Regions from separate parts of the Homo sapiens genome. Here region 1 is linked to region 2. The links come from fine-mapping of genetic effects on gene expression. A gene starts in region 2. The other region holds a variant in brackets. All regions are shown on one strand. Distances are from middle to middle. Region 1 has its middle 40 kb from the start of GNAQ. Region 2 holds the start of GNAQ (G protein subunit alpha q).

Evidence for each region. PIP is the estimated chance that this variant, and not a neighbour inherited with it, causes the effect. A credible set is the group of variants that fine-mapping cannot tell apart.
Region 1: its variant is the best candidate, but not a certain one, in a credible set for the expression of GNAQ in blood mononuclear cells (TOPMed, PIP 0.60).

Annotation. Positions count from the first base shown.
Region 1 is chr9:78,069,428-78,073,953 of GRCh38, reverse strand. No RefSeq gene overlaps it. Among named protein-coding and RNA genes, the nearest start is that of GNAQ, 40 kb to the right of the region's middle. The variant T/G (reference allele first, on the strand shown) is at 2,237.
Region 2 is chr9:78,030,195-78,034,194 of GRCh38, reverse strand. It overlaps GNAQ (G protein subunit alpha q), which reads left to right and starts at 2,384. Exons shown (of 7, transcript NM_002072.5): 1 at 2,384-3,095. The coding sequence starts at 2,960. RefSeq lists an enhancer at 2,301-3,195.

The sequences.
Region 1 (4,526 bases), 39 kb before region 2:
AGTGTGCGAAGGAATGGAGGAGCTGTCCAGGGCACAGGCTGCTCCACGTGGTGAGAGTAAACGATGAGCGTGGGTAGGCGCAGAGGATGATGTCAGAGAGTTGACAGGAGCCAGATTTTAAAAAGGCTCACGCCTGACACCATCAATAGCTGTTCCCAAATGTGAACAACTCCTGACCCACACCCCACCAAATTCTCTTGTAAGTGTACAAACACATGGACTGGCACACCCTTGTTTCAATATGAGCCATACAAATTCATATACTATTCCTGATGTCAGGGCACCTTGGACTATACCGTCTATGGTGATTGAGGCTGTAGCCATTAGCTGAGCTGTCCATGTAGCTTAACTAATGTAAAGGGATCCACATCCCAGACTATGACCCAGCAGTGCCCCTCAGGTCACATGTTTATATGTCGGGGAGGAAGGGCCGTGGAACATCTCTCCACTGGGGATGGGGTTGGCCTTTTGATCCATCTATTGTCCCTTGTAATTTCTGGCAATGACATCAAAGATCAGCAGCTCAGTCAATGGAAGGATTTTATACAGGAATTTGATGTAATCAGATTTGCATTCTAGACAGAAAATTTCAGACAGTTGAGAGAACAGCAACTTTAGTTTAATTTACGCTCAGACTTTACAACTGAATCCCCTTGTAAGATGTGACTTCTTAATCCTTACAACCAGAACAAGAAAGAAAAAATCTCTTAGCATGCATTAAAGGTACAGAGGTTTAATATTAATGAAACCAAATAAACACTTTGGAACTCCCCACCTATTTGCCATCAACACATGGGAATTGATAGTCATCTTAAAGCTAGCCTGGCATGACCACTCGGACATATGGACTTTCTTTTTCTTCCTGCTTTGATGTTAGCTCAGTAGTTCTCAAACTTTCATGTTTAGTTAGATTGCATATGCGAAACCATATATGCTGTGCTAGGTGGGAAATGTTTGAGTCATTTTGACTCTTTGAGACCTTTGCATTATATACTCTCTAGCCTCTCCACCTAAGTTTAAGATTCTCATCTCTAGTCTTGAGCAATGGTCCAGGAAAGAGATAAGAACAGCAGAACTCAAGGTAATGGCTGCAGGAATGTGAAAAACATCTATTCAGGAAACTGGAGCTTTGCTTCCTAACTCTGTCTCCTGCTCTCTGGTCTCATCAATCCCACTTCTTGCTTTTGACCTACATTCCCTGTGCCTTCACTCTGCCCCACACTTCCTAGCTGTTAGGTTAGATTATGAGCCCTGATGTGGATACACGTTCATTTTTCTCTCCCTTCTCTCTGTGGAAACCTGGTGCCTATGGCAAATTCCTGATCTCAGTGGGTTGACTCATCTCACACAGATTAAACTAAACTGGAATGGATCTCCCACAATGAGTATAATCTTTTTAAAATTTATTTTCCAATTTCCTCATCGATGAGCTGGGCATAATAATAATACAGACTTCATGGTTGTCAAAGGATTAAACTGGATAATGAAAAGTAAAATTTTCAGCATACTAACCAGATAGTAAGTTCTCAGTACATCTTAGCTACTTCTTCTGCCCTAATGTCTATGAGTTTTTACAGAATAATACACTTATTATTTTTATTTAAAATTTTTATAGATACATAATAGTCACACTGCACTTATCTTTAAGTTTATGCAGAAGAGTAATATTTTCAGACAATGAGTATAGATACACTTATGTTGACTTCTGCCTTGATATTCTGCCAAAATTTGCTCTTTGGCTCTGGTTTCAATCTTTGCCTTTGGAAAGCTAGAAAGCTGATTGCTCTTTTCACTCTCATTCCTCATATTTTTAACGTCGTCAATGACCAATGATCATATATTCAGGTACTCCACCATCACACATAACCAGCATAACAACTTCAGTTATGCCAATAAGATCTACCACTCAGATATTTTTATGACTGTCTAAATATTTTCTTTCATTCAACATGTAACTTAAAGTGAAAATTACCCTTATGTGCTTTATATATTGGAGTTTTATTAGTTGAAATAGATGCATATTTATTACAGTAAGTTAACATGCTATGAGAATTAAAGACAACTGTTAATGTCACTAAAATTATATACAAAAGCACAAAACAATTTTTAAATACTTAGATGAACAGGAATATAGATTGATGCTTAAGAATATTAAGAGAGGAAAATAGCTGGAAACATCCAAGAAGAGTATCATACTTTTTGAGCCAATATATCTTATAAAAATTTAAATAATAAA[T/G]AGCATGTTATTCAAGATTAGATTAGACCATAATTCTAATATCTGCAAAATTGTTTGATATACTTTTGTTTATAACTTTACAGAAAATAACCTTAAGTTATTACATTCTTAAATTCTTAAGAATTTGATGTAATCCGATCCATTGTCATTTGGGCCATGAATATATACAGGGAGATTCTTGTTTATGAATTCTCATCTTATAGGGGAAACTAAAAGTAGAATACTGACTTTACACTTCAACATTTCACAGATAGGAATATTTTTAAATTATATATAATAACACCCATGATGAGCCAACTTTAATTCCAGAGGTAATAAAGAATATAAAGAAGGCTGGGCATGAGTGGTTCACGCCTGTAATCCCAGCACTTTGGGAAGCCGAGGCAGGTGGATCACTTGAGGTCAGGAGTTTGAGACTAGCCTGGCCAACATGGTGAAACCCCGTCTCTACTAAAAACACAAAGCCGGATGTGGTGGCAGGCATCTATAATCCCAGCTACTCGGGAAGCTGAGGCAGGGGAATCACTTGAACCCAGGAGGTAGAGGTGGCAGTGAGCCAAGATCGTGCCATTGCACTCCAGCCTGGGCAACAAGAGTGAAACTCCATCTCAAAAAACAAAAAAGAATATTAAGAAGAGAAGAAAGCAACAGAGAAAATGCCTATTTACAGACCCCCACATAGTGAATGGCACTACTAGTATTGTGTAGTGTATAACCTGTGCAACTGTATATGGTGGTCATATATGTTCAGAGTCAAAAATGCAGACAAGTGACAGGCTGGCAGTGCTGAGAAACTTTCATTCCTACACTGTAATGTCAAACATTTTGATTACTAAGATTGTTTAAAACAAAATTTTCGTAATAATGACTTTTAAGTTAATATTCTTGGATTTATTTTTAGAGGCCAGAGGTTCATCCTGAAATATGATTGCTGTCCTCAGCAGAATATCTATTTTACCCCATGGCCATTTGGCAATTAGCCAAAATGTGTATTCAGCATACCTCTAACTACATGAAGATTTATTTTCTGTACTCTTTTTCTTGTTACCATGATGATAATCATCTTAATGCAATACACACGTGCAAAAATGTGATTCTTTATTTTTCTCCAATCAAACTGAGCCCAACTCATATGAGCTTTGATTACTTCTAATAGAAGAAAAGGTAATCTGACCAATTCAAAGCAAACACAACTCCTTCTAGGTTAAAATTTCAGCTTCTTCCAAGAAAGTGATTGGTCCAGTTGCAGGCTTCTACACTCTCTCCTCTCCTTTTCTTCCTAGGAAAGATCTGAGATCTAGTGTACCATTTGGCAATGCTCAGGACTAGCCAATTGTCAGCACTAGGACTCAGGGTTGCCCAGTCATCTCATATAATGAGAGAAGGTGGAGATCTAGAATTTTATATAAAAATGCTTGCGACTGGGCGCAGTGGCTCACACCTGTAATCCCAACACTTTGGGAGGCTGAGGCAGGTAGATCACCTGAGGTCAGGAGTTCGAGACCAGCCTGACCAGTATGGTGAAACCCTGTCTCTACTAAAAATACAAAAATTAGCTGGGTGTTGTGGTGGGTGCCTGTAGTCCCAGGTATTCGGGAGGCTGAGACAGGAGAACTGCTTGAACCTGGGAGGGAGAGGTTGCAATGAGCCAAGATCGTGCCATTGCACTGCAGCCTGGACAACAGAGCAAGCTCCGTCCCAAAACAAAACAAAACAAAAAACAAAACTTGCATTTGTAATTCTGGATCAGTTTCTGCTCCAGCTCTGTGTCGAGAGGCTGGCTTTTAGGGATGGCATCAATGGACTTCTTTGCCTCCTGGCTTCCTGTTGGGCTTCTCCTGTGGGAGTCATCAGTCATGGGTCATGCAAGGGTAGAGGACACTGAAGCAGGACGCTCTCTGCAAGGCATTGGATTGGACTGGGCTGGCCATGACTGTCTCCTCTACCAAAGGCTTCTGTCCAAAGCCCTTCCAGACATGGAGGTTGTGACTGCTCTTGGCAGTTACAAGCACCAAAGTGTTTTTGCCATACTTTGTTGTCTTCTCTTAACTCTGTTCAAACCTTTAGGAAAAGCTTGTTTGAGAGTGTCATCTGTTTCCCACCAAAACCCAGATTGATTCATAGACTACTTAATATTTTCTTTTTTTTTCAACTCTATGGGTCAAATAAGACATAAAAGACTGGGTGGGCCAAGTAAAACCATGTCTATAGATCAGATTTAGCCCATGGATTATAAAAATTTTATTTAGAACACCTCCTAAGATATATTCTTGCCTTAAAAATTAATCTG
Region 2 (4,000 bases):
TATTTGTTTGACTTAGTCTCTAGGAATATTTGCTTGGCAAACGCTCTCCAGATAATATGAAAAGGTTTTTGGATAGATCTGGGCTCAGACTTGGAATTTCTTTTCCTGTTTCCTTCTTGACACCCATATATGGCTTTATCACTGTAGAGTGTTGGTTTTTCTTACTTCCTGGTTTCTCCCCAATACTTGAAACATTCTCCTATTGATTCATTGCATCCATTTAAGTATCTAAGTTGCCAGGGAGTGTTCATGATGTTGGGGGGATACAGGGGGGACAAAACAGACTCTGACTCTATAGCCCGCTGAAACAGATGAATTCATCAAATAATAGGACAATTCAGTCAAAACATATTACCTGATAGCCTGATGGCTCATTTTAAAAGACATTTTTAAAAGTCTCAGAGGATCCCTGGGTAGGTAACCAGAGACTTCAAGCTTTCTGTCATTTGGTTTTCCAGTGTTCTGTGTCTCTCCAAAGCTCATATACATACATATATTCGGAGGATGCAAACTTAAAATTTTTTCTTCTGAAGCCACTTTCTATTTTTGCATACTGAATTTCAATCTTTAATTTCTTTAGTCACTTGATTTTAAATTTTAATTTCATAGCAAGTCTAGCTGTTCTCTGTAGGCATTCACATAAAAGGGTTGAGGTTTGCCCTCTCTGCTCTCCAGGGCAAGGTGAAATTTAATTATTTTCTAGGTTTTAAACAGAGAACCTAAAATATATATTTTATATCTTGACTTGCTTGATTTAAATCGTGGTTTAGAGTGTGTGTATGTGTGTGAAACGGTGGAGTAATGGCAAATGAAAGAAAGAAGGAAGTTACACACCTGTTGTCTAAGAACCCTATATGAGTTCTTGATCTGTAGCAAAAGCAGAGTCATGACCGTACCTTACACTCTGGATCAGCAGGTTGCACCAGGGACACTTCAGAGAACACATGAAACGTGAAAAAGCGGTTCTCTTCATAAAAGACAATTTTCTTTGAAGACCTCAGGTTCCTTTAAGGCAGGAAGCAATATGAGTTTCATCTCCTGGGCCTGATTAAACAAGATTATTTTCGTGTGCTATTTATCAGTAGACGATCACAATGAAATGTGCATACGACAGTTTACTGCCTCAATCACATATTGCAAATCAAAAAAACTAGAATGCCGTTTTGCTGGGGCCTCCTTAGTTTCTCTTCTATTTCATTCTTTCCTTTCCTTTTATTCCACATTATTTTACATTTTCCCATAAGTCATCCATAATTCAATCTCAGTCTAGAAGAGTAAATTCGATTACTCGGCGGCTAAACATCGTGTGCCTTCTCAGAAACAAGAGAACTTGTAAAACAAAAACAAAAACAACTTAAAAAAACAAAAACAACCAACAACCACCAAAAAAACAAAGGCATGAAAAGTTGGAACCTATCGGGAGGCTCTTGGAAACTTGGGCAGCTTCCTTTCTCTGTTCAGGATTTAGATTTCTATCTCACGTTACTTTGCGAACAGCTTCGCCTGTGAATCTCCCCCTACACCTCTGGGCACCGGTGCCAATTCCTTCCCTTCCCTTCCCCAGTAGCCCCACACAGTATAGAGGAGCTTATTTTCTAAGACTGCACCGGTGTCAGAGGTGACGTGAGAGTTTCTAACCGAATGGCGTTTTAGAAATAGGAACGGGAAACACAGAAACGGCTGAGGAGCGACCCCGTGGAGCAGACAGGCACAGCCCGGGAGCGGCGGACGCCAGCGCCGGCGCCGCAGGGAGCGCGTGCGGGGCTCCGCGGGGCCGCCTCCCGCGACTTCAGCAGGGGCCGCGGCCGCGCTCCCGGGCCGGTGGGCTGAGGCAGGCAGAGGCCGCCATATTCCTGTCTCACCACGCCCGGCCGGACGGCAGCCGCAGGTCGGCTGCGGCCCTGGCACGCAACGGCGGCCGCCGGCTCGGGCTGCGCGTCGGCGGCCGGGTCTGGCCCCGACTTCGGCCGGGGGCGGCCGTGACTGCTGCGCCCGCGGACTCTGCCGAGGGTGCGGGAGCAGTAGGCGTCCGCAGAGCCCGCGGGGGCCGGCCCAGCCCGGGAGCCGCGCGGGCGAGGCGAGAGCCGCACTGGGAGGCGCGCCGCGGCGGCCGCGAGCCCAGGAAAGCCTTCCAGGAGGGGCCGGGCGGCACCGCCTCCCGGCTCCCTCCTCCCGCGCCCATCCCCTCCGCCTCTTCCTCCTCCTCCTTTCGCCGCCGCCTCCTCCCTCCCGGATCTGTGCTCCAGTTCAGAGAAAGAAGAAAATGTGTGTGTGTGGCGAGGGGGAGGGCTCGCACTGAGCAGCCGCTCCGCGCCTGGCAATCGGGGCAGGGGGTGGGCGTCTGGCGGGGGCGGGGGCGGAGGCGGAGGCGGAGGAGCGCGCGGTTGCCGGGCGGGACGGGAACCGGGTCTGCGCGCGAGCCGGGCGGTGGGCGCGGACAGGGCCGAGGGCGCCCGGGAGCCGTGTCAGGCGGCGGCGAGGAGCGGGCGCGCCGGGCGCGGGGAGCCGTCGGCGGCCGCTCGCTGCGGGGACACCCCGGTGAATGAGCTCTCGCCGCCAGGCGCACGGCGTAGGGGAGCCTCGCAGGCGGCGGCGGCGGCGGCGGCTCGGGGGGCGAGGCGGGCCGCCTGTTCCCGGGGAAGGAGGCGCGGGCGTCTGAGCGAGGCCGGGCGCGGCGGCCTTCTCTCACGCGCCCCCCGAGCCAGCGCCCGCCTCCCGCGCCCGCCTCTCTTCTCCCGTCGGCCCAGACTATCCGCTCCCACCGCGCCCCCGGCCCACCTGGTGGCCCCGGCCCTGGCCGCCGCCCCCGCGGCGGTTCCCGGAGCTCGTCCCGGACGCGCGCCCGGGCGGCGGGGGCTCGGCGGCCACCGCTGCCTCGGGGGAGCGAGGGCGGGAGGGTGTGTGTGCGCGCTGTGAGCAGGGGGTGCCGGCGGGGCTGCAGCGGAGGCACTTTGGAAGAATGACTCTGGAGTCCATCATGGCGTGCTGCCTGAGCGAGGAGGCCAAGGAAGCCCGGCGGATCAACGACGAGATCGAGCGGCAGCTCCGCAGGGACAAGCGGGACGCCCGCCGGGAGCTCAAGCTGCTGCTGCTCGGTGAGTACCGTCCGGGGCCCCGCCGGGCCTCTGCGCCCCCAGCCCACCATCCTTGGCCCTGCGGGGCAGCTGCCTTCGGCGCCCCCGCCCCCCGGCGCCCGCGGTTCGCCCCTACCCTCCCGGGCGCGCCCCCGGCCACTGCCTTCACCCGCGCGGGCGCGCGGGCGCGTTACACACAGACACACACACACACACACACACACACACACACAGCGACACACACACGCAGCACAGGGGTCGGGGCTGCCCTGCCCGGTGCCTTGGCTTGTTCCTTTTCGTGTCCCTGAGGGCTGTACCTTATCTGCTGTGCATCTGCTAAATGGCAGATCACTCCGACCAGAGGCGCGGGGGTGGAAAGGTGGGCAGAGGGGTTGAACTTCCAGTGTCGTGGCCGCGGCACCCCATGGGGTGGTGGCGTGGGGAGCCGTGTGTGTGGCCCAGCGGGTGGCGAGCGGAGCCGGGGCACGTTGGGGGATGGCCTGCGGTGGAGTGGCCGGTGTGCATCCATTATCAGTGCCCTATGGGGTCAGGAGGGAATGGGGGAACGGTGGGCAGACTCGCAGCTGGATTCCCGGAGCACTCATGGTGAGGAAGCCAAGTGGTTGGCCCTCCAAGGAAAGGGTCTGTGTACTGGGGGCGAGGCGGGAGGGCAAGCCCAAATGTGTCACACAAGTGCTGTTCTCTAGCCACCAGACCATCGAAAGGAGGGAGCCTAGAAGAGTTGGCCAGTGGATGGTGACAGGCGTTATTCTCGTCTGCACCATTCCTTCTAGATAAAGATGAGGGTAGGGGAGCGTTGTGCTGTGTGGTTGTTGACAGCGACCGGTATCTTTTGTTTAATGAGGCAACCTAGATGTAGGCCTCAGTTCACAATAGTTACTACCGAAAACCAGTGCAGTCTCTCA